Regions from separate parts of the Homo sapiens genome. Here all the other regions are reported to be linked to region 4. The links are microRNA targets in miRTarBase. Many come from high-throughput screens and were not tested one by one. Region 4 holds a microRNA gene; each other region holds the end of a gene's coding sequence.

What was found. Region 4 holds the annotated microRNA hsa-miR-196a-3p (CGGCAACAAGAAACUGCCUGAG, at 3,087-3,108, shown strand). A microRNA usually pairs through its seed, bases 2 to 8, with sites in the 3' UTR of a target mRNA and lowers its output. Matches are read on the target gene's strand: a 7mer-m8 pairs with bases 2 to 8, a 7mer-A1 pairs with bases 2 to 7 and ends in A, and an 8mer does both.
Region 1: miRTarBase lists CENPO as a target of hsa-miR-196a-3p. Seed matches in the 3' UTR shown: 7mer-m8 at 1,104-1,110.
Region 2: the mRNA of GPR75 is a reported target of hsa-miR-196a-3p. The part of its 3' UTR that is shown has no 7-base or 8-base seed match.
Region 3: miRTarBase lists LFNG as a target of hsa-miR-196a-3p. The part of its 3' UTR that is shown has no 7-base or 8-base seed match.
Region 5: miRTarBase lists MRPS21 as a target of hsa-miR-196a-3p. The part of its 3' UTR that is shown has no 7-base or 8-base seed match.
Region 6: miRTarBase lists CUL4A as a target of hsa-miR-196a-3p. Seed matches in the 3' UTR shown: 7mer-m8 at 2,963-2,969 and 8mer at 3,760-3,767.

The regions. Positions count from the first base shown.
Region 1 is chr2:24,817,101-24,821,838 of GRCh38, reverse strand. CENPO (centromere protein O) reads right to left here. Exons shown (of 8, transcript NM_001322101.2): 7 at 3,998-4,169; 8 at 1-2,485. The coding sequence ends at 4,033. It overlaps ADCY3 (adenylate cyclase 3), which reads left to right. Exons shown (of 22, transcript NM_004036.5): 20 at 199-322; 21 at 991-1,115; 22 at 1,725-2,670. The coding sequence ends at 1,907. Among named protein-coding and RNA genes, the nearest start is that of CENPO, 26 kb to the right of the region's middle.
Region 2 is chr2:53,848,924-53,853,771 of GRCh38, forward strand. GPR75 (G protein-coupled receptor 75) reads right to left here. Exons shown (of 2, transcript NM_006794.4): 2 at 3,989-4,848. The coding sequence ends at 4,211. All of the region lies in intron 1 of GPR75-ASB3 (GPR75-ASB3 readthrough), which reads right to left. MIR3682 (microRNA 3682) reads right to left here and starts at 282; the gene lies at 199-282.
Region 3 is chr7:2,526,165-2,531,012 of GRCh38, reverse strand. It overlaps LFNG (LFNG O-fucosylpeptide 3-beta-N-acetylglucosaminyltransferase), which reads right to left. Exons shown (of 8, transcript NM_001040167.2): 6 at 4,604-4,769; 7 at 4,092-4,177; 8 at 2,584-3,867. The coding sequence ends at 3,801. MIR4648 (microRNA 4648) reads right to left here and starts at 3,939; the gene lies at 3,868-3,939. RefSeq lists enhancers at 115-264, 696-1,669, 1,670-2,644 and silencers at 985-1,084, 1,605-1,664.
Region 4 is chr12:53,988,713-53,993,560 of GRCh38, forward strand. MIR196A2 (microRNA 196a-2) reads left to right here and starts at 3,026; the gene lies at 3,026-3,135. It overlaps HOXC10 (homeobox C10), which reads left to right. Exons shown (of 2, transcript NM_017409.4): 2 at 457-1,567. The coding sequence ends at 734.
Region 5 is chr1:150,306,964-150,311,811 of GRCh38, reverse strand. It overlaps MRPS21 (mitochondrial ribosomal protein S21), which reads right to left. Exons shown (of 3, transcript NM_031901.6): 3 at 2,833-3,764. The coding sequence ends at 3,584. Among named protein-coding and RNA genes, the nearest start is that of PRPF3, 12 kb to the left of the region's middle.
Region 6 is chr13:113,262,461-113,267,308 of GRCh38, forward strand. CUL4A (cullin 4A) reads left to right here. Exons shown (of 20, transcript NM_001008895.4): 20 at 1,027-4,648. The coding sequence ends at 1,122. It overlaps MIR8075 (microRNA 8075), which reads left to right and starts at 460; the gene lies at 460-539.

The DNA of each region.
Region 1 (4,738 bases), not on the chromosome of region 4:
GCCTAGACCTGCTACGTGAACTTTGTCACAGTGGCAAGTCAGAGCTAGCGTGGCTGCGACTCCTTTGTGGGAGGAAAAGTAAGGCCTTGAACATCTAGGTGTAGGGAATCCACCCCCAGAACACTGCCAGGGAAGGCAGCAGAGCAGGCTGCTGCAGTGAGCGGCCCCTGACACTTTCTCCACGGTCCCCTGGCACAGGAAGACAAGTCCGAGAGAGAGCGCTGGCAGCACCTGGCTGACCTGGCCGACTTCGCGCTGGCCATGAAGGATACGCTCACCAACATCAACAACCAGTCCTTCAATAACTTCATGCTGCGCATAGGTGAGCACCCCCAGCTGGCCTGCCCCGCAGCAGGCTCCCTTCCCATGCAGGGGCCTGGCCCACCACCAGGAGAGACATGAGGCTCAGGACAACTGAGGCAATTCGGGTGGGGAGGTTCACGCACTCACAGGGCAAGGAGACCTGAAAGACCTTTAGTCCAGACGACTCTAGATGACTAAACCAAAAACCCAGCTGATGTGATGATCCGACTATACTGTGCCTACTGTTACAATAGAAGCTTGGCCTGCCTGGCTGAGAAGTGAGTTTGTGATCCATTTCCAGAGGGGTTGCTGTGCCTGCTGAGGACATGGCTTCCCAGACAGGCCTGCTCTTTGAAAGGAGTTAAGATCACCTGCTGCTTCTACTGAGGGGGTATCATTCCTGAGTGAGGTCCCAGGAGACTTGAAATACCAGCTGTGTTAGAAGCTGGCCACTACCATGCCGAGTAAATCTGCATATGGGGGGGGGGTGGCGGCTGACACCTAACAAGCACACGGATAAACAGGAGATGTGATTTCCACCCTCCAATAGCATACAGCCAAGTTGAATGAGGACAATGATGTGTTACATTAGGAGCTTTGTGGTACAGGTCTGGAGAGGAGATGGCTTCTGAGGCCCATAACAAGGTGTGGCCTGTGGCTGTGCTGAACTTTATGCCTCTACCCTAGGCATGAACAAAGGCGGGGTTCTGGCTGGGGTCATCGGAGCCCGGAAACCACACTACGACATCTGGGGCAATACAGTCAATGTAGCCAGCAGGATGGAGTCCACGGGGGTCATGGGCAACATTCAGGTATGTCCAGTGGCACAGCTGGCACGTGCTCAGACTCGGCATGAGAACAAAACCGGAACAGTGCTTTCCCACGTGCCCCTGCCTCCCACCCTGGCCCTGAACAGTAAGTCCAGAGGCAGAGACGTGGGGCAAGTGGAAAAGAATCTCTGCAATAGCTAGCCTCAGCACAGGAAGAAACACTTCCACCCATCCACAAAATCTGGGCTGAAGTTCTAGATGCATATGGCCTACCTTTGGGTATGAACCTTCTAATACCTTGTGATCTGTCTCAGTGGCGTCTGGCAGAAAAGCTCCACGAAAGGGGCAAAGGGACAGAAGAGCAGGCAGTGGCAGTTTCCAGGTAACAGTGCTGCCACCCAGGTGACCATGGCCATCCTAGGAGAGAAGTCTCTGGATGAGAGGAGGCCCCCAGCCAGTCACTCCAGGGTTCTCCTTCCCACCCGCTGCTCGCCACGGGTGGAAGGGCTTGGCCCTGGGAGGTTTGGGGAGTGTCCCGTACTGCTTGGGACCCATGGATCAGTGCTCGGCTCCAACCACCCAAAGCCCCCACCCGCCCTCAGTCTAGGCTCCCCCCGTAACGCCACGTTCTTGCTCCCCCTCCCTCTCCAGGTGGTAGAAGAAACCCAAGTCATCCTCCGAGAGTACGGCTTCCGCTTTGTGAGGCGAGGCCCCATCTTTGTGAAGGGGAAGGGGGAGCTGCTGACCTTCTTCTTGAAGGGGCGGGATAAGCTAGCCACCTTCCCCAATGGCCCCTCTGTCACACTGCCCCACCAGGTGGTGGACAACTCCTGAATGGCCTCGAGCCTGCAACAGTCCAAACCGGAAGGGAGAATTTATTTTTTGAAACTGAAGGAAGTCCCGACCTTCCTGGATTGAAGTGCACACTCATGGACTTTAGGTTTAGAAACCTCCTCAGCCTTCATTTGTTCGTGGATGTGTGAGCTCTGAGGGTGGCCCTGCTATTCCTGTGTGTGCCTGTAGTGTCCCCAGCATAGGGGTCTTAGGCATAGGGCTGAACAGTCCTTCCAGAGCCCTCGTTCCAATCCCTGCCGTCCTTGCCCCTGAGGGGCCCTGACCACTGTGAGCAGGAGGGTGGCAGAGCTGGGACAAAGCTGCCTTTGCCGCTGGGCTTTCCGGGACTGTGGAGGGAGCACAGGCGGGGAAGCTCCACTTCAGACAGGGCTTGGTGGGGCAGGACATGGCTCCCATTTTGAAGGGAGGTCTCCATGTGGTCCGAGTGAGGTGAGACGGCCCTCGTCCTGGTGTTCCTGATCATCTTGAAAGGTTCTTCTGGAACTCCTGTCCCCTTAGTCATGAGAACAGAAAGTGCAATATTTCCTTTCACCTGGCAGGGGAGGGGGGATTTATTTCTGAAAGAAAAATATATAAACAGATCTTCTACATTTATATTTTTAATCTTCTGTTAAATACACTTTCCGATATTGCCTTGCCTTTTGAGCTCTTGCTACAGTCGCCTTTGCTACTGCTTTAAGAGAATTTACAGGTATTGATAAAGAACAAGACTGTTTTATTAAAAGCTTTATTCAACTTGAAAGTGATTGTGGAAATTCTGTTAATATCACTTATCTGAGGAGTGCTGGTACTTTGCTGACTCATGCCACTGGTCCCCACCACAGGCCTGGAAGGCAAGAGCTTGAAGGTCTCATCATAGCTCACTGTACCCCGGAACGCCTGCTGCCTGGCCCTGTCTCTTTTATTCTTAAACTTTCTTCTAAAGGGTACTCCAAGCTGGCTTTAATCCCCTGCACTGTTCCTGGAGCTCTCCCACACGGAGGTTACTTCGTGGCCATTGCAGGGTTAAGTCTGAACGTGGCCTTGGGCCAGTCATGACTCCTATCTGTGCCTGGGCAAGGGAGGGCTACAGGAGAACCTGGTCAGCCAGACACAGGTTTTCATATCTGTGAGTGACCCACACGCCAAGGAACCAGAGGTGCCAGCAGGTCAGAGGCCCGTGGTTACGGCAAATCAGGACACTAACCGGAGAGCCTGCAGGAGAGGGAAGACCCGGGGGGCGCCTGAGTCCCCCTGAGTTAATGGGCAGATTTCTAACTAACTAACTGTGCTTTTTCAGAGGGGACTTCCTAGTACATTCACAGCTCTACTAAACTTTTAGGAAACAAAATATGAGACACACTGAACTCTGATTATTTTATCCTACTGCTTTCTCACACCATATTTATAAAGCAGTGGCCTAGAATACACTGCGCCTAACCAAACAAACACTGAAGAACTTCCTTTTCAAAAGTTTCAAACAGGAAAATGAGGAAAAATTACTTAAAGCTTTCATAAAAGCTAAAAATACTTTCCTTTTAAAAAAAAAAAAATATTGGGTCTTCCTTATTATCTTCATTAGTGAATGTGGGTTATTTTTCCATTTATTTAGATCAGTGTTTCTCAACAGAATCAAGCTATTGCAGTTTGAGTGGAGTGCTACATTTCTGTGAGAGCCCTTTCTGAAAATTTTAGGATTTTTGGCATCTCTATTCCTGGCATTAAATTAGTAGCAGTTACTGTGACAACTTAATTGCCTGGTCTTTCCCAGAGTTAATGCCCTCAATAATTTGATATTTTTCCATAAGTACTTCTTGAGTGATACACCTTTTTCAAAAAATGGCTTTTATTGCCCCACAAATGATTTTCAACTAAAATGTATGATCAACTAATACCTTTAAAAAACATCTTGAGCATTTTAAGAAGGGACCAGGTGATCATGGGAATTGTTCAAAAATGCCAGTGTCTATACTCAAACCTGCTCTTCCATCCAGATGAACAGGTAGGTGTCTGTTTTCATCAGAAGGGTGATGTACCCTTCATCAGACAGTACTACCCACCTGGTACTGTCTTCAGTACTGGTTACTTACCTCTGATGTGCTCCCAGTGCAGTGAAAACAATCTATTAGGAGACCAGACTCATATCCAACTTTTCTCCTTTTCTTGTAAATGAGGCAAACACTTGATGCAAGGGCTTCGTACAGAACAGAGTTTCATGAGATGCTCGTTGCTCCTCCCATGAAGTGGATAATACTTCCACTCCTAAAAAGAAAGATTCCATCAATCTCATTCAGTGCAGCTGGGGGAATCGGAGCCTGGATCACTGATATTCAATCTCATTCAGTGCAGCTGGGGGAATCGGAGCCTGGATCACTGACATTCAATCTCACTCAGTGCAGCTGGGGGAATCGGAACCTGGATCACTGATATTCTGGACCCACTGGACCCATACAGCTTTTTTTTTTGGTCTGGACTAAGGCTGCCCCTTACTGGACCAATGCAATCTAGAGACTGGGGACTGGAATCTAACTGCGCAGAGAAATCAAAGACCGATGGTGTGAAATCTGGGGCAGCTTCAAAATTTCTGCCTCCTAAAAACATTTCACCCAATTTTTCATTATTGCCCATGTCACATTTAACTGAAACAGGTTCACCAAAAAATCTCTCTCTCAGCCAGTCTGGAAGGATTTCCATTTAGAGACTGCTCCGTAGGGAGGAGTAAGTGTGTGCTGACGTGTCATGTCCATTTGTCTTCACAGTGAAATGAGTCTTCTGGCTCCATCCACCATAACTGACCCATGACTCAGCCTTATCATTAGGTGTCTTTCCTG
Region 2 (4,848 bases), not on the chromosome of region 4:
AAGAACATTAAAAGCATTAGAAATACAAATCTTGCCTAATGGTTAACATACGAACAATTATTATAAAATGTTTAAAATACGTCACATACTTTGCATCACAGTAAGCATCAAGAGAACTAATTAACATATCCTGATAATTAATCATATTCAACTGAATTCTCATTACTTTTAGTTCTCATTTTAGCCCTTATGAAGAGATAAGTTATATATTTCTACCTCCACCTGTATCATCATGACACCTTTATTATGATAACACAGGTAGAAGTAGACATATATAACTTACGAAGAAAGAAGTTATGTCTCTATAGATATAGAGATATAGATACGGACGGGGGCTATGAATCGAGCCCACTATGTATTTCATGCAATTTATAACAATAATTTTTTTAACTTTTCTTTTGGAGATTATTTTTTGATGAGCATAAAGAGACAATACCTCATATGCACCTGCTTAGTTTTCTTTGTGCTGTAATTTTTACCTCCCAATGATGGGCCTCATGCCAGTCAAATCATCTCAAACTCAAACGTCACACAGAAAACCTGCCATTTTAAATTTTATAAATAGAAATTACTTTTGTGTTAATATTTTATTGTATCACATTTGAAATGCCTAGCCAATTTTTGTATTTTTAATAGAGACAAGGTTTTTTGCATAGCCAAAAAAATAGATATATGCCTTTAAAAATGTGATGCTTGATTAATGTTGTCTTCATTATAAAGCTGTTTGGCACACTGGGGTAAATACCAGGTTTTGAATTAAGACAAAAATCTAATTCCTAATTTGCCACAATTCTTTGTACGATCTTGGGAAAGAATATTAGATTTCTTAATTCTTTGTTAAAAAGAGATAATAGGCCAGTGCACTGGCTCACGCCTGTAATCCCAGTACTTAGGTAGGCCGAGGTGGGTGGATCACAAGGTCAGAAGTTTGAGACCAGCCTGGCTAACTTGGTGAAACCTTGTCTCTATTAAAAATACAAAAATTAGCTGGGAGTGGTGGTGCGTGCCTGTAGTCCCAGCTACTCGGGAGGCTGACACAGGAGAATCGCTTGAACCTGGGAGGCGGAGGTTGCAGTGAGCCGAGATTGTGCCACCGCACTCCATCCTGGGCAACAAGCATGAGACTCCATCTTAAAAAAAAGAAAAGGGAAAAAGGGAAGGAGGGAGGGAGAAAGGGAAAGAAGGAGGGAGTAGGTAGGCAAATCAGTCTAAAAGGTGAACTTAAAAACAAAATAATTCGAGGCTGCCCCTGGGTGTGGCAAGAAAAAAATTTAGAAGAAAAAGAAAACAAAAGAAAATCTATGCCTATTTAAATCTCAAAAATAGAAATAACTGATCAATACTGAAAGGTAACAGTTATAAGATAAGGTTGAGCAGAGTTCTAATTGAATATCTATTCTGTCTTCTCTATACCTCTCATGACCCCTGTATTTGGGGAGAGCTGAGGGAGGAAACTATAAATTAAATGCCTTTCAGCTGGATGTGGTTTCTCATGCCTGTAATCCTAGCACTTTGGGAGGCCGAGGTGGGTGGATTACTTGAGGCCAGGAATTCAAGACCAGCCTGGCTATCATGGTGAAACCCTGTCTCTACCAAAAATACAAAAATTAGCCAGGAGTGGTGGCGGGCACCTGTAATCCCAGCTACTCTGGAGGCTGAGGCAAGACAATCGCTTGAACCCGGGAAGCGGAGGTTGCAGCGATCTGAGATCATGCCACTGCACTTTAGCCTGGGTGACAGAGTAAGACTCTGTTTCTACAAAAAAAAAAAAAGACTTTTACGCAAAGGAACAAAGTACCTTCCAATCTGCAATAATAACTCTTGAATATAACAATTTATAAAGATAGGTGTTGTATATTGATGCTCATCTTGTGTGTCTAACATTTAAAAACCTAGTGAGTTCAAATACTAACTGTATACTGAAAATATTTTTACAATAAAATATGAGTTCACAGTTGTTATGCTAGGAATCTCAGAGCATATAGTAAAATTAGTTTCAGGTATAGAAATACTTAAATCTATTTTTTCTTTCTGCCCATTTCCACTTTAAGATTAATGGGAGAGAAATAAAATGATTAGTTTGAAAATAGATTATCTTGAGAATTTTTCTACCATAATAATAAATAAAGACAAAAAAGAAGTCATTTCTAAATAGTTACTTGAATACTGTCAGGTGGTTAGTAAACTCTTCTCACACAGAAGGAAAACATAAATCAAAACATTCCCAGTCTTATCTGTAAACCTTGTTAAGCAATAATAAATATTGCCCAATGCATGACAGGAGTCCACACTGTTTTCCACAGAACACCGAGATGATTACCGCAGTGCCTTCTCTCCTGGGAACAGTGCACCTCTACCATAGATGCAGTCCTCTTCACTAGGCTTCTTGAATAAGATCATTCAGAAACAATTCACTTTTGGGCCAGTTGGGGTGGCTCATGCCTGTAATCCCAGCACTTCGGGAGGCCGAGGCAGGCAGATCACCTGAGGTCAGGAGTTCAAGACAAGTTCAAGACCTGTCTCTACTAAAAAATACAAAAATGAGCTGGGCATGGTGGCACACGCCTGTAATCCCAGCTACTCAGGAGGCTGAGGCAGGAGAATCACTTGAGCCCGGGAGGCGCAGGTTGCAGTGAGCAGAGATCATGCCACTGCACTCCAGCCTGGGCAACAGAGCAAGACTCCCTCTCAGGAAAAAAATAAATAAATAAATAATTCACTTTTAACAAGCAAAAATATATTTCTTTTCTTTCTTTCTTTCTCTTTTTTTCATTTTTTTGAGATGACATCTCGCTCTTGTCACCCAGGCTGGAGTGCAATGGCACGATCTCAGCTCACTGCAACCTGTCTCCCAGGTTCAAGCGATTCTCTTGCCTCAACCTCCCGAGTAGCTGGGATTACAGGTGCTTGCCACCATGCCTTGCTAATTTTTGTGTTTTTAGTAGAGACGGGGTTTCATCATGTTGGCCAGGCTGGTCTCGAACTCCTGACCCTCAGGTGATCCACCCGCCTCAGCCTCCCAAAGTGCTGGGATTACAGGTGTGAGCCACCATGCCCGGCCCAAATATATTTCTTTTCAAAAGAATTGTAAACCTACTCAACTGACATAAAACATGTCTATAATAAGAAATGGCAATAATCATAATACTATATTCTTAGTTGACTGTCCTATGAAAGAAAAGTACCTAATACCTGTGTGAGTGTTTTTGGTAAAGACAGAGTTATCACCTTTTCTGCCTTAAGAATATATATATTTCTGGCTAAGCACAGTGGCTCATGCCTGTAATCCCAGCACTTTGGGAGGCCGAGGCAGGCGGATCACCTAAGGTCAGGAGTTGAAGACCAGCCTGACCAACACAGAGAAACCCTGTCTCTAATAAAAATACAAAAATTAGCCGGGCATGGTGGCATGCGCCTGTAATCCCAGCTACTTGGGAGGCTGAGACAGGAGAATCACTTGAACCCGGGAGGTGGAGGTTGCGGTGAGCCGAGGTCATGCCATTGCACTCCAGCCTGGGCAACAAGAGTGAAACTCCGTCTCAAAAAAAAAAAAAAAAAAAAAAAAAAAAAAAGAATATATACATTTCCTTTAGAGACAGGGTCTTGCTGTGTTGCCCAGGCTGGACTCATAATCCCGGGCTCAAGTGATCCTCCTGCCTCAGCCTCCCAAGTAGCTAGGACTACAGGTGCATGCCACTGCACCCAGCTAACAATATATTATTTATTCAAATCAACCTGCTACCAACAAGGTGTAGTGTTCCCGATTTCAACACTTCAAAAAATCAAAATTTACAATTCAATTAATAAAAATAACACCTCAGCAAAAATCATATTTTCACATTCTTTAAAAAAAATCCAGTCAATACCTTATTTTGAAGTCACATAACACTGACTCAAATCATGATAATCGGTTGACTTTCTACTTTAACACAGTAGCTTCATTCCTGGCATCTATTTAAAGGCTCGGTACAAAAGACTGAGGCAAAGAGCAGGGTAAAAAATCTAAAACTTTCACATCAAATCTTAAGATGTCAACAAACTACAAAGCAAATCAACAGATACTGACACATCAGATGAAAGAAAACCATAACTGCCAACTTTTCAGTTGAATCTTGTAGGTTTTGATCCGCCACTGATCTCAAGTTAGAATAAAGTCCATTACTATCAGAAACAAAAACTGTTTACATAAGATCCTATAGCCTCCATGACTTTAAACGGAGGGGACTGGAATCTGCTTGGCTGAAGTGCTGTCATATTCCTGCACTAAGTCATTAGTGGTGTGATAATGCATGGCAATATATGAATTGGCAAATCCAAAAGAGTTTACTGGCTGTAAGTTACATGGGCTGCTCTCCTCCTGGGAAGGGCTGCTGTTATAGATGCTGTAGTAAGGTTCAATCCGAGTGTTGATGGGGGTCGAGCTGCTCTGACCACAGTGTTGATGTCCAGCAGAGATCTTGGGACTCACCATACTTTCTTTTGAATGACTTGGGCCACAAGCCTGGTCCACAAATTTCTTCTGTGGCTTTGGAGATAACATGTAGGCAGAGTTTGTTTCATGATGGGAGGATTTGTTTCTGTTGACTTCGAGGTTCCCTTTTCCCATGGCTCGAAGTCGAGTCTTTTGTTTGCAGCAGAAAAAACCCAGGCCTATGTATTGGAGGCACCAGAGCACTTTCCTTCTCAGCCCTGCACTGTTCCGAGAATATATAAAAGGGTTTAATCCTGACTTGAAAAATATAAGAGTAAATCCAAACAATTCAAACTGGTAAAGAATGAAGCTCCCATTGCTGGAGAGAACCACCTGTACCAAGGAAATCCCCAGTGGAAGACAGCACACCAGGACTG
Region 3 (4,848 bases), not on the chromosome of region 4:
ATTGGGGAGGGGGGATCAAGAGACCCAACTGCATTGCCTGCCCTCCTTCCCAGGCTTCCAGTCCTCCCAGTGGATCCCACCTCTGCACCTTTGCCCAGGCTGTGCTGAGACCTGGAAGGCCCCTTCTCTCCCTACTCCATCTTGACAAAGCCTTCCTGCTTCAGCTCAGAGGCACCTCTTCCAGGAAGTTGGCCCTGATGGCCCCAGTGGAAGGGAAGTTCCTTTCAACTGAGTGGGGAGGCGCCCCACCCTAGCAGCCCCTCCCAGACCCCAAGCAGCCTTGGGGCTCCCCAGGCACTCGCCTGGCAGAACGGAAGCAGGGGTGGCGGCTGAGGTCTGCCACCCTCGCTGAGCGCCCTGCAGCCCCTGTGGTTGCAGTTTTACTTGTTTTGAAAGCCCCATTAATGATCAGAAGTTTGGGAAAGGGGGCCTGGCTGGGCTAGACTGGGGGGACATGGAGCCCCAGGGACCAGCCAGGCCCCTTTCTGACCAGACCTCTAATCTGATGTGATGGCACCACTGGTGGGTGGGACACAGCTGTCCCCAGAATGTACCTGGGGGAGGAATGACTTCACCTCCCCTGCCGGGTGAGTCACCTTCTGGGGGGTGGGGGGGCGGTGGATGGAAGAGGTCAGGCTGCCTCATTCCCCTAAGACACTGCTGGGCCTGCTTCCCCTTTTGAGGGCAGAGAAACGTCCCTCCCTCAGCTTGGAAGAGGAAGGGGCCAGATGCGCTGTCCTGTGCACCTTCCAAAACACCCCCTGACCTCCAGCACCCGGGGACTGCATTTACCTTTGTTCCCATTTGTCAGATGGAGAGGTCGAGGCCTCGGGAGGAGCCGGGCTTCCTCCCCACCCCACTTCTTGCTCCTCTGCTCTCCCCGATGCCCACTTAGCCCCCACTCCCACCCCGCTCCACACACAGGGACATATGAACATTAATGGGGACTCCCCAAGCCCTGGCAGGGCCCCCACAGCTGTATCCATGGGTCTGTCCGACCCCTGGGTCCAGCCACACCTCTGCCCCCGGGGCCCCACCAGCTCTGTGGGGAGGCGATGCCAGCTGCAGGCGGGGACAGCGTCGGGGCCAGGGCAGAAGGCCCCAAGCCTCTGAGTCAGCCGGGCAGGAAGGAGGCCAGCAGCCTCTGCCCGCAGCCTGTTCCGTCACGACCCCCCCGCCCCACCCCAGAGTCTCAGCTTCCTCGTTCAGAAGAGGGGCCTATGCCGTCCTATGAGAAGTGGGTGGGCACATGGTGGGTGCTCAGGGAGGACCACAGCCACCCAGACGGGGGTCAGGCCACGTGACGGTGAGGGCCCTCCATCCTCCCGCCATCCCCATCACTGTCCACACCCCCCAGGCAGCTGCTCTGCTGACTCAGGACCGTCCAAGGCCAAGGTGGGGTCACAGCCCTGCCAGCCGCCCCCAAGGCCAGGGTAGCCCCCAGCCAGGCTTAGAGTAAGGGGGTCTCTGCAGGCCCATTCAGCACGTCAGCACTCTTCTGGAGGGGGCAGCGACGGGGGAGGGCAAGGCACCCCCCCATAGAGAGGCACTTTTCACAGTGTGTCGTCTCCTTGGAGCAGAGTGGGGGGTGCAGAGGCACCAGGAGGGGGACCTGGAGCCCTGGGGTCGGGGGAAGCAGGGTCAGGCCAGAGCAGGAACTTGCAAGGGGCGCGGCCAGGGCAGTGCCAGGCCAAGGGTGTAAGCCCCAGGGAAGGGGTGGGGGCTCATGGTGAAGAGGAAGTGAGCCGCCCCGGGGCTGCCAGGAGGGTGAGGGGAGGGAATCCCCGCAGAGGCTGCAGCACCCGTCCCCTACTCAGTCACCCTCAAAGGCTGGATTTGAGGAAGGAAAAGCACCGCAGAGCTGCTGTATTTAAAAAACAAGCGTCTGGATCTCTGCAGGGGCTGGGACCAGCTGCAGTGGGGGCTCCGGCACTGCTCCTGCTCTCCAGGACTCTTCCCACCACCCCTGAGCGGGGTCGGGGCCTGGGGCCACATCACAGGAGAGGGAGGTGCAGCATTACCAGCTGTGGGGCGGCCGGACCCACGGCCTGCCTGGCTTGGAGTCTGAGCGCCTCCCCAGCCCACCAGCATGGCTGCTGGACCTTGGGCATCAGCTGCTCCGTGCCTCAGTTTCCCCACCTGCAAAGTGAGGCGATGATGTGGACTCTGTGAGCTCGTGGCAGGAGTGAAGTTGGATAAGGAGGCCCCAGGCCCGGTCACAGGAGTCACTGTCCCTCCTGCAGGGGCTGGGCTCCCCAGTGGCCAGACCAGGCCAGAGCCTTGGGGTTGTGCTTTTGGCTGGGACCTAGAGCCCCCAGCATCCTAGACCTGTTCCTCCTGGAAGCACAGGGCTCACGCTCCAGCGACCACCCTGACCCTGGGTGGGCCGCACCTGTAGTCACCAGCAGGCAGCTATAGTGACGCCAGGTTTCGTTCCAAAATAGTTGTCTCTAAGCGTTTCCTATCTACCTGCTCCATGCGGTGCACCCAAGGCCAAGCCTCCCCTTCACCTGTGTGCCTCTCCTGACCCTGGCTGCCCTGGGGCTTAGGCCCCACCTCCAGCCAAGACCAGGACCCCCAGGATTGCTGCAAAGAGCACCTTTATTCACAGCAAAAGGACGTCACCATAGCAACAACACTTCAATTCCCTGAGAACTTTTCCCTTATCATTCGCTTTCCTAGCTATGTCTTTGCAAAGAGAAAAACAACAAGAAACACAGCCCACGGGACAGGTGAGCCATGCTGGGCCCAGCGGGGAGGTGGCAGCTACACAGGAGGAGGGCAGGGATGGGAGGTTCCAGATGCTGGAACGCATAAATACACAGAGTGCCAGACAGTCCCACTTCAGCTTTAAAAACAAAGATGACCCCGAGTTTGGCTTCTGTTTTTTCTGATCCACAGAAAAGATAAGATAAAATAAGACCCTCCCCCACCCCCACCCTCCCAAGCAAAAAACAAGAACACCCTACTTTTTACCCATCCCCTTTCAAAAAAAACAGCACAGTAAAAAAATACTGTCACAATATTTACAGACACGCCCACTGTGGGCGACTTGCTCTCTACTTTGGAGAGGAGATTAAATGCTGAGCTCTGACTCACCCTGTCCTGGGGAGGCAAAGGGAAGACCTCTGAGGAGGCCTGGAAGACTCCCCACTCAGAAGAGCTGGGAGGGGTGCCACTGTTTGCCCAGCTGGACAGCCAGCCACTGGGGGCTTCGTGGGGCCACTGGAACTGGGCGGTGGCTGCTGTTACTCTTAAGCCACAGCGTCCAGGCCAGGAGGAAGGGGATTGGGTCACGCACCCCCAGACCCAGCCTCCCCTGCAATGAGCATGGCTCAGTGAGTCGTACTTGGGGCTATGACACAGGGGCCAGGACTTCAGGGCACAGGTACCCCCAGCACAGAGCTTGTGGTCAGCAGGAAGAGAAAGGCACCTACGCATCGCATCCCTGCAAAGTAGCCCGGAGCCCCGTAGCTGTAGAAAGATCCAAAAATCCTAACAGAATTGCCCTCGGAGTGGCCTCCGACACACAAATCCTTCCTCCAAGCAGGCCCTGCAGCCCACTGGCCCTCGGAGCAGAGGCACATAAGTGGCGCTGGTGCCCGCCCCTCCACAGAGCAGAACTGCCCAGCAGCCTGCTACCCGGGTGGGCATGCAGTACACACACACACACACGCACACGCACACGCACAGGCACGGCCCTAGGGGAGCCTCGAATGCCGAGGCCAGGGCAGCGCAACAGGGTCCCTGGGCCCTTTGGATACCAGGGGCGCCCAGGGATTGGGTCTCAGCCATGGCCACTAGAAGATGGCAGTGCGGGGACACCAGGGTGTGTCCGGGTACAGGTGGCAGTGGATGGAGCGGAACCTGTGGGAACAGAGCAGGGGCTGGTCTGCGTGGGTGGCAGGCAGGTGCTGAGCTCCCATTTGCAGTCCCACAACACTGGCGGCCCCACCCCGAGCAAGCAGGACTCCGGGGGACACCTCTATGTAGAGTCATGCCGCTTAGAGAGACCCTGCTGCAGCTCCACGAGGCCCCCTGACGCCCCTAGGCCACCCTACGCAAGCCCATCTGGGCCGGGGTTTCCTTACCTGGATGGGTCGGCCTCCACCGAGAAGGGCCCCTTCACGTGGACGGCGTTCCGCTTGTTTTCAAACATACCGTAGCTCAGCGTCACCTGTGGGGAGCGGGCGGAGTGATGCCGGGAGGGGCCCGACATCCCTGGGCCCCGCCCCAGGCTGGCCACACAGCCCTGAGTGAGGCAACGGCCCTGCCCTGGCCTCCCTTGGACCTGGAAGGACACCTGCCCTGCACACCCCAGGAATAAGGTCCCAAACTGGGGACCAGCTGGGGCTGGCTGCATTGCCAGCGTGGACAAAATACGCACAGTAGGCGCATCACAGTGAAGAGAAGAGACGGCAGGAAAACAACCCGCCATAAACAGCTTTGAGCTCATGGCAGGAGTGACCCCCCCTGGCTGACAGTGGAGTGCTGCCTGGCCTCCCTGTTTAGAACAGTGCCCCACCCCACTGCGCCCCTCTCGGCAGCCACACGTCCCTTCCTGTGCTCTCGGAGTCCTGGCGGGGCCCGGAGGATGGTGCACCTGCTCGTGGAGCTCCGAGGTGGGCACCTGCTGCAGGTTCTCCAGGTGGGAGTGGAAGAGGCCGCTGCGGATGAGGGGCACACCCAGCAGGGCCTCCACGATGTAGCCGATGGTGCAGTCATCAGGCAGCCGGATCCGCTCAGCCGTATTCATGAAGTGACCCCCGCTGCGGGAGGGAAGGGCCCAGACCAGTGAGCAGAGGCGGGAGCCATCTGCTGGGAGCTGGGGAGGCCCCACCAGGCAAA
Region 4 (4,848 bases):
AACAGGTCAAAGCTCTCTGGGAATTTCTCTGGTCTGTGGGTGGACTCTGCTCTGGTCTGGGGCCTGGAAAATGCTTTTCCATCTGGTTGGATTTTTCCAGAGCTGGAATGGAACAGAGAGAAGGGGGGATCTGGCAAGGTTTAGGGAATCTGCCAGGGTCAGCCAGCTGGGGGAAAGCCAGGGTACTCAGGATCTTTTAGATTAAGGTGGACTTGGGTAATTTAAATTTAATAAATGCTTGGAGGCAAGAACTTCCTCCCTTTATCTCCCTAAGTCTAAACCCCAAAGAAATTGTAAGAACCTTGAGCCTAAGAGGAGCCCACCGCCAGGCCCCTGGGGCAAGAGCAGCTCCCCTGTGCTCCCTCAGCCACCCCACAGCAGGCTGGCAAAGGCTGCAGCGCTGAGAGGGTTTTCGACTTCGAGGGATACTTATGTAAATAATGTTATTTTTAACAGAGGAGATAAAGGCAGAAAACACCACAGGAAATTGGCTGACAGCAAAGAGCGGAAGGAAGAAGAGGTGCCCCTATACTAAACACCAGACGCTGGAATTGGAGAAAGAATTTCTGTTCAATATGTATTTGACGCGAGAGCGCCGCCTGGAGATTAGCAAGACCATTAACCTTACAGACAGACAAGTCAAAATCTGGTTTCAAAATCGCAGAATGAAACTCAAGAAAATGAACCGAGAGAATCGGATCCGGGAACTGACCTCCAATTTTAATTTCACCTGAGAGCGCGGCCTCTCCTCCTCCCTTCCCGCTCCTTCCTCTCCCCGCCCCTCCTCCCTTTGTGCCTGGTGATATATTTTTTTTTCCTCCCTGAGTATAAATGCAATGCGACTGCAAAAAAGGCAAAGACCTCAGACTCTCCTTCCAAGGGACCTGTGGTTCGTGCTGCGAAGATGCTTCCACTTAAAGCATGAGAAATGGGGTGCCGGGATGTGGGGTGTGGTGTGTGCCCTCATAGATGGGGGTGGGAGTGTGGCTGGTGTGTGTGTCAAGCCCTCACTCACCCACGCACTCACACACAGCATTCTGTTCTCCATGCAAAGTTAAGATCGAATCCATCCGCTTGTAGGGGAAAAAAAGGAAAAAAATTAACCAGAGAGGGTCTGTAATCTCGCAGAGCACAGGCAGAATCGTTCCTTCCTTGCTGCATTTCCTCCTTAGACTAATAGACGTTTTGGAAAGTTCGGCTAGTGTTCGTGTGTTTGTCGTAGCACCCAGAGCCTCCACCAAACCCTCTCCATGTCTTTACCTCCCAGTCGCTCTAAGAATCTGCTTGAAGTCTCGTATTTGTACTGCTTTCTGCTTTTCTCCCACCCCTCCTAGCACCCCCACATCCCCCATCTAGTAACATCTCAGAAATTTCATCCAGAGGAACAAAAAAATTAAAAATAGAACATAGCAAAGCAAAGACAGAATGCCCCCCCCCCCAAATATTGTCCTGTCCCTGTCTGGGAGTTGTGTTATTTAAAGATATTCTGTATGTTGTATCTTTTGCATGTAGCTTCCTTAATGGAGAAAAAAAAACCTAATAAATTTCCAGAATCATAATCCTCAAATGGATGGTTTTTTGTTTTTAGTGATTTTTAGCAACACCCCTCCCCCGAAGAGGCTGAGTGTGTGGATGTGTGTGTTTTGTGTTTGACTCATCTCCTAGAGCCTTTCTAGAACGTCTCTTGGCGGGTTTAATGTAAGTGAGAGACCATAACGTTGATTTAAATATTATCCAGGTGACCACAATAAGTCAAGGTCATAAAACAGTAATGTCAGGACGGTCTTGGTGCGCGCGAGAGGTGGATTTTATGATCTGCAAATATAATGTGGTGCTGCAGTAAAAGATGCATTTAAAGGTGACTGGAGGAGGGAAAGAGGCAGAGAGCAAGCTGCAATCTTGAGGAGCAGACGGATCTGATTGCCTGGGGTGCTGGGCTGGGCGCACCCCACTGCTGCTGGGGGTCACCCCAAGAGCCCCCCACCCATCCAAGGAAAGGAATAAACTTAACCGCTGGAGGGGCATGAGGAGCTCAGCCCCCCCAACCTCGACAGCAGCTAACAGAAACGCCAGGAGCAGCAGGAGGAGGAGGCAGCGACAAGGTAAGAGAAGCGGTTTCTTGTTCTTCTCTTGGCGGCGGAGTGGGGATGAGCGGTGTCCCCAGGTGTCCGGCGTGCAGCGGACAGAGCCTGGAGGAAGGTGTTTAGGGCATCCGTGCTTGCCGAGAACCCAGGCTTTCCTAGTGGCCGCTGGCAGCGGAGGGCAGCGACTGGGAGCTCCCTCTCCTTCCCTCCCGGGCCCATTGCCATGGGGGTTCCACAGTTAAAGGGATAAATTGATGGTTTTTGGCTTCTTTATCTTTTCGGGCACTTTGGGTCTCCTCGAAGTCGACACTCTGGTCTAGGTGTTGCTCAGTCTGGTCGTCTGTTGGTGGGGGAGGAGGAGTACAGAGGGTTGAAGCTTGAAGCTTAGGTTTTCCTGCTTTTCGCTGGTTTGGATGTGAGCCTCGTCCAGCCTCTTGTTCCCTGTGCTCCCTGGCTGTAACGTTTTGCCAGGCAAGTGGCCTGATTGGAAGTGGCTCCAGAGCACAGGGCTATGATTCAGCTACCCACATTCGCTGAGAAGCCTAAACCGAGCTGAGAGGGAGAGGATCAGAGGGAGTCTAGCAGGAGAGTGCAGGAGAGCCAGATGGACAAGACAGGGGACCCAGCTCCAGAGTGGAAGGAAGATCCAGCTTCCCCCAGGGCCAGGGCCAGATGCAGGGGAATAGCTCCACTGCGGTGCTGGGGGTGGGGCAGGTATTTGGCCGCCAGTGGTCCCATTTCACCAGATTTTTCCTGAGCAATTTGCTTAGACCAGAAACTAATGAAGGCAGTCAGACCCCTTACCCACCCAGCAACCCAAAGTCTACTCTCTAGTCCTTAGGGAGGTTGTGGGGGCGGAAAGGGGGACGGGGCTGAATTTCTTCCTTCCCCAACCCCCTTCCCTTCTCCTCCAGATAGATGCAAAGCTGAATCTCCCGCCCTGCTCGCTCAGCTGATCTGTGGCTTAGGTAGTTTCATGTTGTTGGGATTGAGTTTTGAACTCGGCAACAAGAAACTGCCTGAGTTACATCAGTCGGTTTTCGTCGAGGGCCCCAACCCACCTCTCCCACTCCTACCCTCCCCAGTGGGACTGCCCCACTGCCCCCTCCCAGATAGGGCAAAGTGGGTGCAGACCAAGGAGGACAAGCTGTGAGTGGGGTTGCAGAACAAGTCTGGAGAACCCTGCTTTATGCCGTCCTCTCAACCTATCCCAATCCCTGTGATTAAGGGAGAGGAGTCTTTCCTGCAGCTATTGTCTCCTGGGCCCAGCTGATGGAGACAGACAAAGAGGGTCCAGCCAATTCCAAGGAAATTCAGGAGTTTGAGTAAGAGGTGGCCTGGCGGGCCAGCTCAGTTGGGCAGCAGGGTGGGGCAGAATTATTAGCAGAAAGAGGAGCACAGAAAGAGAAGACGGTCTCTGGAATGGTTAGCCTCTCCCACCTACCACCTCCAGTCGACTGGGGCTCAAGATTCTCCTTAGAAAAGTGGGGTACCTGGAGGTTCCAAGAGTTGGGGAACTCTGAGCGCCAGCCCAGCCCTTTCCCCTTCCCCTTCTATAGCTCCATCTCCAGGGGAAGGACATGTTTGGGGTGTTGGTAGGTTAGAGGAAAGCCATCAAAGTCCAAGTAGAACCCCTCACACACGCACACGCACGCAACTGGGAAACATCAGGGCAAAAACCTGACTCTGGTCTCTGTTTAGTCGTCTGTGGCCTGAAGGCCTCAGTTTCTGTGGCTGTGACTGTCAGGCAGCTGCCTGTCTTTGCACTATGTGGAAACATCTGGGTGAACAGAGGCTGCCCGTGCCCACCATTGCTATGTTGGTGGAAAGGTTGTTGGCTGATGCCAGGGGGAGGAGGGGAGGAGAATGGGGTAGAGGAAAATCTGAGCAGTGTGAAACTTTGCAAAGCTTCCTCTCATCCTTTCCCCCTTGGTTCTTCAATTCTGGCCCTGGTTGCTACAGAGAAAGTTCTCAAAAGAGGTTTCTTTGCCTGCCTGCGGGCGGAGTTGGGGGGGGGGGAATAAATGGGGGAGGGGTTATGGAGACTGAGGAGATACACCCCTGTTCTCAGAGATACTGGGGAAGAGAAGCCAAAAGAAGGTCAGGTTCTTGGTTCTCTTACTTTGAAATTATTATGATTATTAAAACATTATAAACGTCTAGACAGGGAAACAAAATTATGTCCCTGTAACAAAATATATACAGAGTTCTATATTCTCACAGTCATCTGCTGGGAGGGATATATGTGACCTTGTATGAGTGTAGGGCTCTGTTTCTGTCTCCCCTAGGCTCTCTTAAATACCCTGTATGTATTTATACGCATACACATTTATTTTTCCCCTCTCTTATGCGAACATATTTGTTTTGACTCCCAAGGAAGCTGGAGGAGAAAATGGGAATAGAATTTCCTGTCTCCCTAGCTGGATTGTTGGTCTGTCTGTCCCCCATCCCTTTGTGAGAGAAAAAATTTCTTCTCTTGGAGAGAAGTATTCAAACCTCTCTATGGCTCCCAGGGAAATGGGGAAGTTTCCAGAGAGTCAGGCCAGCTGGTGGGAAGCAGGCAAGGGATTCCCCTAGTTTGGGAGCTCCTAGCAGCCTTTGAGTCTTCAGGCTGCCCCAGGCACACAGTCAGTTGGGGCAAAGCGTGTCCCAGGCAGGGACTGGGTGCTCAGGAGCATTTGGCTTGGAGATAGAGTCCCTGATGGGCCGAAATTCACTAATGAACGACTTCTGTGCTTTGGGTCTCTGTGCCCCCATTTCCGTT
Region 5 (4,848 bases), not on the chromosome of region 4:
TCTCAGCCACCTCTTAGTATTTTGGAGGGAGCTCAGAAGCAACTTTAGCCCCAGGAGAATAATGCCAAGTAACAGGCCTGATTCTGTTATCACAAACATGCCTTACCACTGTGGTAGATGACACTATATTATGGCTCAATATCATTAAAATGTACTAAAGACCAAATTCAGATTTATTTTATTTTATTTATTTATTTTTGAGACGGAGTCTCGCTCTGTCACCCAGGCTGGAGTGCAGTGGCGCCATCTCGGCTCACTGCAAGGTCTGCCTCCGGGGTTCACGCCATTCTCCTGCCTCAGCCTCCCGGGCGCGGTGGCTCACGCCTGTAATCCCAGCACTTTGGGAGGCCGAGGCGGGTGGATCACGAGGTCAGGAGATCAAGACCATACTGGCTAACACGGTGAAACCCCGTCTCTACTAAAATTAAAAAAAAAAATTAGCCACGCGCGGTGGCGGGCGCCTGTAGTCCTGGCTACTCGGGAGGTTGAGGCAGGAGTATGGCGTGAACCCGGAAGGCGGAGCTTGCAGTGAGCCGAGATCACGCCGCTGCACTCCAGCCTGGGCAATAGAGCGAGACTCCGTCTACAAAAAACAAAAAAAAAGGTAGTGACGGAGTTTCATCGTGTTAGCCAGGATGGTCTTGCTCTCCTGACCTCGTGATCCATCCTCCTCGGCCTTCCAAAGTGCTGGGACTACAGGCGTGAGCCACCGCGCCCGGCCTCAGATTCAGATTTAAAGGTGACTCAGAAGTGTCATATCTTGTTTGTTAAGACTAGGTTGTATAAAGGGAACAAAGTTGAAGGCAGCCTGTATACAGATTTTCTCCAAAATGAGGGAAAGGAGCAGATCTATTTCTTTTTCCTTTTTTTTTTTTGGGGACGCTCCGTTGCCCAAGCTGGAGTGCAGTGGCGCGATTTCGGCTCATTGCAAGCTCTGCCTCCCGGGTTCACGCCATTCTCCTGCCTCAGACTCCCAAATAGCTGGGACTACAGGCGCCCGCCACCATGCCCCGCTAACTTTTTTGTATTTTCAGTAGAGACGGGGTTTCACCATGTTAGCCAGGATGGTCTCGATCGCCTGACCTTGTGATCCGCCCACCTCGGCTTCCCAAAGTGCTGGGATTACAGGCGTGAGCCACTGTGCCTGGCCAGCACCAACTTTTAAAAGAGACCGAGTCTTGCTCTGTCGCCAGGCGCGATCTTGGCTCACTGCAACCTCCACCTCCTGCGTTCAAGTGATTCTCCTGCCTCAGCCTCCCAGGTAGCTGAGATTACAGGCGCCTACCACCACGCCCAGCTAATTTTTTTGTATTTTTAGTAGAGACAGGGTTTCACCATGTTGGCTAGGCTGGTCTCAAACTCCTGACCTCGTGATCCGCCCGCCTCAGCCTCCCAAAGTGCTGAAATTACAGGCGTGAGCCATGGCACCCGGCCTGGCACCGACTCTTAATAATAGCAACACGGCTGTCAGCCAACCAATGGTGGAGGAAACAGCAGGAGAAAAAGCAGAGCAGCTGGTCTTCCCACAGTGGTCAGTTTCCGCAGCTGTCAAGAGTAAAATAATCAGGAGTGACTGCTGGGTAGAGGCAGTGATGGTGGGAACCTCCACTTGAAGTCTCTTTGAGTACTGCAAAGGGCAGTGGTTGTAACTCTAGCAGGCATCAGAATCACCTGCAAGGCTTGTGAAAATAGATTGCTGGGCTCCAACCTCAATTTCCAATATCGAAGATCTAAAGTAGGGTCCCATAATTTGCATTTCAAGCAATCCCTCTGGTGAAATTGATGCTGCTGATCTGACACTTTGAGAAGCACTGCTTTGTGGGTATTTCTGGCTCTGTGCCATTCTCTCTCAACGCTCCATTCCCTCTTTCCTACTATCTACTGAGTCCCACCCATCTATTGCTTTATTTCTTCTCCACCATCCCTCTCTTAGTCTCTGTTAGGAAAACTAAAAGGACAGAAAACAGGAATGAACATTAGGGTAGATTTAAGAATTTCTTTGGGCAAGGATTCCAGCACTCTAGTCTGGTTGATAGGTGTTTTCAGAAGCAGAATTTATTCCAAATACATACATGCATCTTCTCCTCTCTACCTAACATGGAACAGTTTAATAAAAAGTAATAGATGCTTTCTCAGTAAGATTTTGCTTGGGGATTCAAAAAAATTGGGTAGGAAATGGTAGACATATTTCACTACATTAAAAAAATTTTCCGGCCGGGCGCAGTGGCTCACGCCTGTAATCCCAACACTTTGGGAGGCCAAGGCAGGGGGATCACGAGACCAGGAGATCGAGACTATCCTGGCTAACACAGATAAACCCCATCTCTACTAAAAACACAAAAATTAGCCGGGCGTGGCGGCGTGTGCCTGTAGTCCCAGCTGCTGGGGAGGCTGAGGCAGGAGAATGGCGTGAACCCAGGCGGCGGAGCTTGCAGTGAGCTGAGATTGTCCCACTGCCCTCCAGCCTGGGCAACAGAGCGAGACTCCATCTACAAAAAAAAAAAAAAAATTTACCAGCCAGGTATGGTGGCTCATGCCCATAATCCCAGCACTTTGGGAGGCCGAGGTGGGCGGATCACCTGAGGTCAGGAGTTCGAGACCAGCCTGGACAACATGGTGAAACCCCGTCTCTACTAAAAATACAAAAATTAGCTGGGCGTGGTGGCAGGTGCCTGTAGTCCCAGCTTCTGGGGAGGCTGAGGCAGGAGAATCACTTGAACCCAGGAGGCGGAGGTTGCAGTGAGCCTAGACTGCACCATTGCACTCCAGTCTGGGGGACAAGAGCGAGACTTCCTCTTAAAAAAAAGAAAAAAAAATTCCTTACTTCTCCTGGACTTTCAAAAAAGTTTTTATTGTAGTAAAACACAAAATTTACCATCGTGACCATTTAAGGGTATAGTTCAGTGGCATTAAGTACATTCAACTTTTTGAGCAACCGCCATCACCATTCATCATCCATCTCCGTTTTTTTGTTTTGAGATGGAGTCTCACTCTGTCGCCCAGGTTGGAGTGCAGTGGCATGATCTTGGCTCACTGCAACCTCTTCCTCCCCAGTTCAAGCAATTCTCCTGCCTCAGCCACCCAAGTATCTGGGATTACAGGCGTGCACCACCACGCCCGGCCAATTTTTTTTTGTATTTTTAGTAGAGATGGGGTTTCACCACATTGGCCAAGCTGGTCTCAAACTCCTGGCCTCAAGTGAGCCGCCCGCCTCAGCCTCCCAAAGTGTTGGGATAACAGGCGTGAGCCACCATGCCAGGCCATCGTCTCCTGAACTTTTTCATCTGCCCAAACTGAAACTCTGTACCCATTAAACAATAACTCCTCACTGCCCCCTCCTCCAGTCCCTGGCAAATACCATTCTACTCCTAGAGTACTTTCAGACTCAGTTTCTTCTTTCACTTAATAAAAGACAGGGTCCACTGCTGACTAATGGGATTGTTTCTATATTTGGAGGCCTTCTTGCAGACATGTGATTTGAGTTTATTGCAGAGAATGGTAATAGGAAATGGGATTGTACAAAGAAAAGAGATGGAGAGAAAACTGGATGAGGGTTTCGCACTGGGTGTCCCACCCACAGGCCTCAGCAGCCCTGCCACGGATCTGCCCGATTCTTTCGCATCAAGAAGTTGATCTTGCGAGCCATTTCCATGTTGTAGATCCGCCGGCACCTTTCATAGCTTTCCCTCTGTCGCCGGCAGCATGGCTTCTCATAATACCGCCGATGCTTAATGTCCTCAATGAGCCCATCCATAGTGAGGATTCTGTATAAAGGCAAGCAATGAGGTTAGACATTTGGGATCATCATTATTCTTTTCCAGTTTCATAAATAGAAGTCGATTGACCAAACAATTGGTATTTATAAAAAATACAGTGGGAAATGGTGGCAATAGAGCATTAACTGCCTACTTACAAAGGCCTCAATAAGAATCTGTGGGCCGGGTGCAGTGGCTCATGCCTGTAATCCCACCACCCTGGGAGCCCAAGGTGAGCAGATTGAGCCCAGGAGTTTGAGACCAGCCTAGGCAACATGGCAAAACCCTGTTTCTACAAAAAATAAAAATAATTAGCCAGGCTTCGTAATATGTGTCTGTAGTGCTAGCGACTCACGAGGCTGAGGTGGGAGCATCACTTGAGCCCAGGGGAGACTGAGGCTGCAGTGTGCTGTGTTTGCACCAGTGTACTCCAGCCTGGGTGACAGAATAAGACCCTGTCTCAAAAAAGAAAAAAAATATTGTTCAGCATGGGCAACACGGCAAAACCCCGTCTCTGCAAATAATACAAACATTAACCAGGCATGGTGGTACATGCCTGTAGTCCCCTCTACTCAGGAGGCTGAGGTGGGAGGATCAATTGAACCTGGGAGTTCATGGCTGCAGTGAGCTGAGATCCTACCACTGCATTCCAGCCTGGACAACAGAGTGACACCTTGACTCAAAGGAAAAAAAAAAAAAAAAAAAAAAGGACTGGGCACAGTGACTCATGCCTGTAATCCTAGCACTTCGGGAAGCCGAGGCAGGTGGATCACCTGAGGTCGGGAGTTCGAGACCAGCCTGACCAATATGGTGAAACCCCGTCTCTACTAAAAATACAAAAATTAGCTGGGCATGATGGCGGGCGCCTATAGTCCCTCCCAGCTACTCAGGAGGCAGGCAGGAGAAGTGTTTGAACCTAGGAGGTGGAGGTTGCAGTGAGCTGAGATTGCACCACTGCACTCCAGCCTGGGCAACAGAGTGAGACTCTTGTCTCAAAAAAAAAAAATTGGGGAAATAAAAAAGCAATTAATTACATGGCCCTTGCTCTTGGAGAGTTTATAGTCAAAGTTATGTTCTCAAATCTACTCTACCA
Region 6 (4,848 bases), not on the chromosome of region 4:
GGCAACATAGTGAGACCCCTTCTCTACAAAAAATAAAATTAGCCAGGCATGGTGGTGTGCAGCCTGTGATCCCAGCTACTGGGGAGGCTGAAGCACGAAGATTGCTTGAGTCCAGGAGGTGGAGGCTGCAGTGAGCTGAGATCGCACCACTGCACTCCAGCCTGGGCGACAAAATGAGACCCCATCTCAAAATAAATAAACAAAATAAAATACACTACTTAGGCAGAAGCATCCTTTCAAAGGATAAAAGTTGCCCCAGTAAGACATGTTGAGATTTTCCTTTCAAATAAAAATGTGTCACGTGATCGGGTCTGCCTCACTTATACGTGCCCTTGCTGATGGCAGATGTCGGATCTGCCTCGCTTATACGTGCCCTTGCTGATGGCAGATGTCGGATCTGCCTCGCTTATACGTGCCCTTGCTGATGGCAGATGTCGGATCTGCCTCGCTTATACGTGCCCTTGCTGATGGCAGATGTCGGATCTGCCTCGCTTATACGTGCCCTTGCTGATGGCAGATGTCGGGTCTGCCTCGCTTATACGTGCCCTTGCTGATGGCAGATGTCGGGTCTGCCTCGCTTATACGTGCCCTTGCTGATGGCAGATGTCGGGTCTGCCTCGCTTATACGTGCCCTTGCTGATGGCAGATGTCGGGTCTGCCTCACTTATACGTGCCCTTGCTGATGGCAGATGTCGGATCTGCCTCGCTTATACGTGCCCTTACTGATGGCAGATGATGTATGTACATTTCACAAGTTTCACGTTTCCCTCAGGAAACCACACTCTGACCATAAACTCACATGGACGCTTTTTTTATCAAGAGATAACGTTAACTTTGTCTTTAAAATAGAAAGTTTTGTTCATTTCATAAATATGTGTATAATTATAAATGATTTTCATATAAATATCTATTTGTATATATATTTCTATAAGTATAGTTACATACTTCATGCATATACCCCTTGTATGTAAATGTTTGTAAATTTAATGCCATTGTAATTAGGGGGGTTTTATTCTTCTTTTTTAGCCTGGAGATTTGAAAAAGAGAATTGAATCTCTGATAGACAGAGACTATATGGAGAGAGACAAAGACAATCCGAATCAGTACCACTACGTGGCCTGACGCATCTGCAGACGGTTCCCCTTCATGAAACACTAGAATGTACCCTCAGAGCAGGAAGCACACCTGTGCCATTTCTGGGACTCTGATTGATCCAGCTGTGGACATTGGAAGGCGAAGGAAGGGAGGTGGCTCCTGGGTCATCTTTCACAAGGCTCAAGACTTCAACCTGCAGATGTATCTTTTTCCCTCCAGTTTTTCCTCTAGTTCTTTTAGGCATTTAAATTGTTTCTGTTACTCTGTGCAAAATAACTTTGAGATTGGACAAGAAGATGTTACTAAAGAGAAGTTCCTTTAAAAGGTCTTGTTCTTGTGTCAAAAAGCTGCAAGTTTGGTTTGTTCTCGTGTGTGATCATGAGTGCACAATGAAGAAGACCCTAGATGCTGCATTTTTTAGCTCTGAAGATTCCTTAGGTATCCCTGAAGACAGCTCGCTCAGATGATCAGCATTTAGAGTGAAAACAAGGGCCCTTCATGGGTGAACATTAGAAAGAGCCAGGGTTCAAAGCTGGCGAATGGATGACGCACCCTAGCCACTGGCCCCTCTCTGTTTCATGTATTTCCAAAAGTTGTAAACTTTGATGGCTGATTTTTCGTAAGTCAGGTTTCTAAGTGAGCTCCCTGAGGTGCCAAGGCCATGGTGTCCGCCCTGCTGCGTCTGTTCGTCAGCTGAGTTCCTTGTGAATCTCTGTTTTAGGGTTTGGGGCTAGTGTGTTTGTGTTTCCATTCTAAGATTGAGTCTGGCAGTCCCTGTTTTTTTGCATTGGGGTAACTGCTCTTTGATTTTTTTTAATTGCAGTATTTGTGTGATTGCAATAATAAAGTTTGGTTTGGTTTTTACAGTCATGCGCAGGGACGATCCTTGTTCTCTGCTGTAAACTGTAAAAAGTTTATGGAGACTTAAAGTCTTGATGTTGTGAAGCAGAGGTTATTTTGTGGAAAGATTAAAAGGATTTTGTTGGTACCTGGTTTTGTGTTGTGTATATATACATGAGGTTGAACAGTGAAAGGAAAGTTCAGTAGTGATGTTAGAAGGGTAACTATGACAAAGATACTTTTGAGATAACATTTAAAAGTACTTTATATTTTACATAATAGCATGTTTCATTTTGATTAAAAGCTACCAAAGGAATTTTGATCATGGCATAAGTGTTTAAAGCAATATTTTCTGGAATATACCAAGTTTATATAATTTGATTTTGTGCTAAATTATTAAGAGTCTCTTTTTGAAACATGCGGGTTTGAAATATGACACCTTGTGGGTTTCCATATTAAAATCCTCACTCTTTAATTGTCATTTCTATCTTTGAAAATTTTCATTTATGAGTTCCATGATATGTGGTCTAAGAAAGACCAAACAGATTTCTATTTTTTTTTTCTTATAAGTTCGTTGTGTCTAGAGATTGTTAATATTGTAATTTAATGTAGACTTACTTTGAATAAAATTAGTTTAATTGGCCTTAAAATTACATTAATAAAACTTTGTGATATGCAAATGACACATTCTTCATAACTCTTTAGCAGCTTTGACTACTAGTGCACTAGACAGAAGTCAGAGCAGGGAGCACCTGTCCCCTCTCAAGTGATTATTCTTTCCTGGCCACCTCTACCACAAAATACCAGTGGGGCCAGGTAGTGACAAGTGGGTCTTTTTTACTTGGACGATTCGTTGTGCTGTGCCTTTGTTTCATTTGAGCACAGTGGCTCACGCCTGTAGTCCCAGCTATGGGAGGGCAAGGTGGGAGGATCGTTTGAGCCTGAGTTCCAGACCATCCTGAGCACCATAGGGAGATCCTGTTTCCATTTTAGTTTATTTATTTTTAATTGAGGTGGAGTCTTGCTCTGTTGCCCAAGCTGGAGTGCAGTGGTGCAATCTCAGCTCACTGCACCCTCCGCCTCCTGGGTTCAAGCAGTTCTCCCACCTCAGTCTCCCAAGTAGCTGGGATTACAGGCACCCGCCATCATGCCCAGCTAATATTTGTATTTTTGTAGAGACGGGGTTTCACTATGTTGGCCAGACTGGTCTTGAACTCCTAACCTCAGGTGATCTGCCCGCCTTGGCCTCCCAAAGTGCTGGGATTACAGGCGTGAGCCACCATGCCCGGCCTGCCTGTTTCTGTTTTATAAAAGAAAGGAAAATCTATTTATATCTATTCTCTTATTTAGCAATATTTAATGTTTTATTGTTAAAGGTCAGTGTGGTAAAACAAATAGTATAGAAGAAATCATTGAAAAAGAAACAGCACTTAGACAGAAATGCTGTAAAAGTGGAAAGGAGAAGGTGAAATTACTTGCAGGTTAGATGGTTGCATACCCAGGTCATCTAAGGAGCAAATGAAAATCTGTGACTGAAGAAAGAATTCACCAAGTTAACCAGACACAAAATTAACAAAAACATCAGTAGCTTTCCTATAAATATAGGCTATAATGGAGGGTCATTTTTTATTTTTATTTAGAGACAGGGTCTTAACTGTCACCTGGACTGGAGTGCAGTGGCATGATCATGTTTCACGGCAGCCTCTACCTTCTGGGCTCAAGCGATCCTCTCTTCTCAGCCACCTGAGTAGCTGGGCCTACAGGTGTACATCACCACGCCCAGATAATTTTTATTGTATTTTTTATAGAGGCAGTGTCTTGCTATGTTGCCAAGGCTGTTCTTGTACTCCTGGCCTCAAGCGAACCTCCTACCTCAGCCTCCCCAAATGCTGGGATTACAGGCATGAGACACTGCACCTGACCAGAAGTCATTTTTTCAATAGCAACCCCCAAAAAAGATAAAATACCTAGTAACAAATAGGGAAACACCTATGTGAAAGGTATTATAACATTACTAAGGAACACAGGCCCTGAATAAGTGAAAGTTCTGTTGATTCTCACATTTTGCTATACAGTATCTTAAGATGTAAAACCTTCCTTTAAAACACAAGCGGATTCTAAAGTTAAAACAGAAAAGCAAATATGCCAGACTAGTCAAATTGTTTTAAATTCTGCTGTTTTTAGAACATTGTAATTGAAACAGCATGATGCTGGCCCTTTAAAAAGATTCCTGGAACAAGAAAGTCCACAAATAAGCCAAATACACAGGAACTCGGCGTGGCACAAAGGGGCCGTGTGTGATCAGGAACTGGAACTTTGCAACAACTACCCATGCTCAGAAGTTTGGGCCACCTTGAAAAGAGAAAAGTTGGATTAGACTCCTTTTTATACTAAGGGAAGTTCCAAGTGGTCAAGTATTTACGTGTAAAAAAATACATATATATGAAACCATAATCATAAGATACTTTTTTTGTAAATTGACTATTATTGTATAAATTTATAGAGTATAAAGTGATCTTATAAATTATGCATACATTGTGGACTAGTCAAGCTAGTTACATCCATCACCTCAAATACTTAACATTTTTGTAGTGAGAACATCTGAAATTTACTCTTAGCAATTTTGAAATGTACAATACTCAATTTTTGACTGTATTCACCATGCTGTACAATAGAACTCAGAAAAAGAAAAATATAGTCCTCCTTTCTAAGATTTTTGGACCCGTTGCCCCTTTATTTGTGTTTTTCCACTAAGTGATCTAGTGAATTCACATCGATTTTTTTAAAAAAGGATTGACATTAAATGACATCTTTTAAAGTCAACATGGGGGAAAACAAGGTTAAAAAAACTGGAACCCTTGCCGGGCACCATGGCTCATCCCTGTAATCCCAGCACTTTGGGAGTCTGAGGCG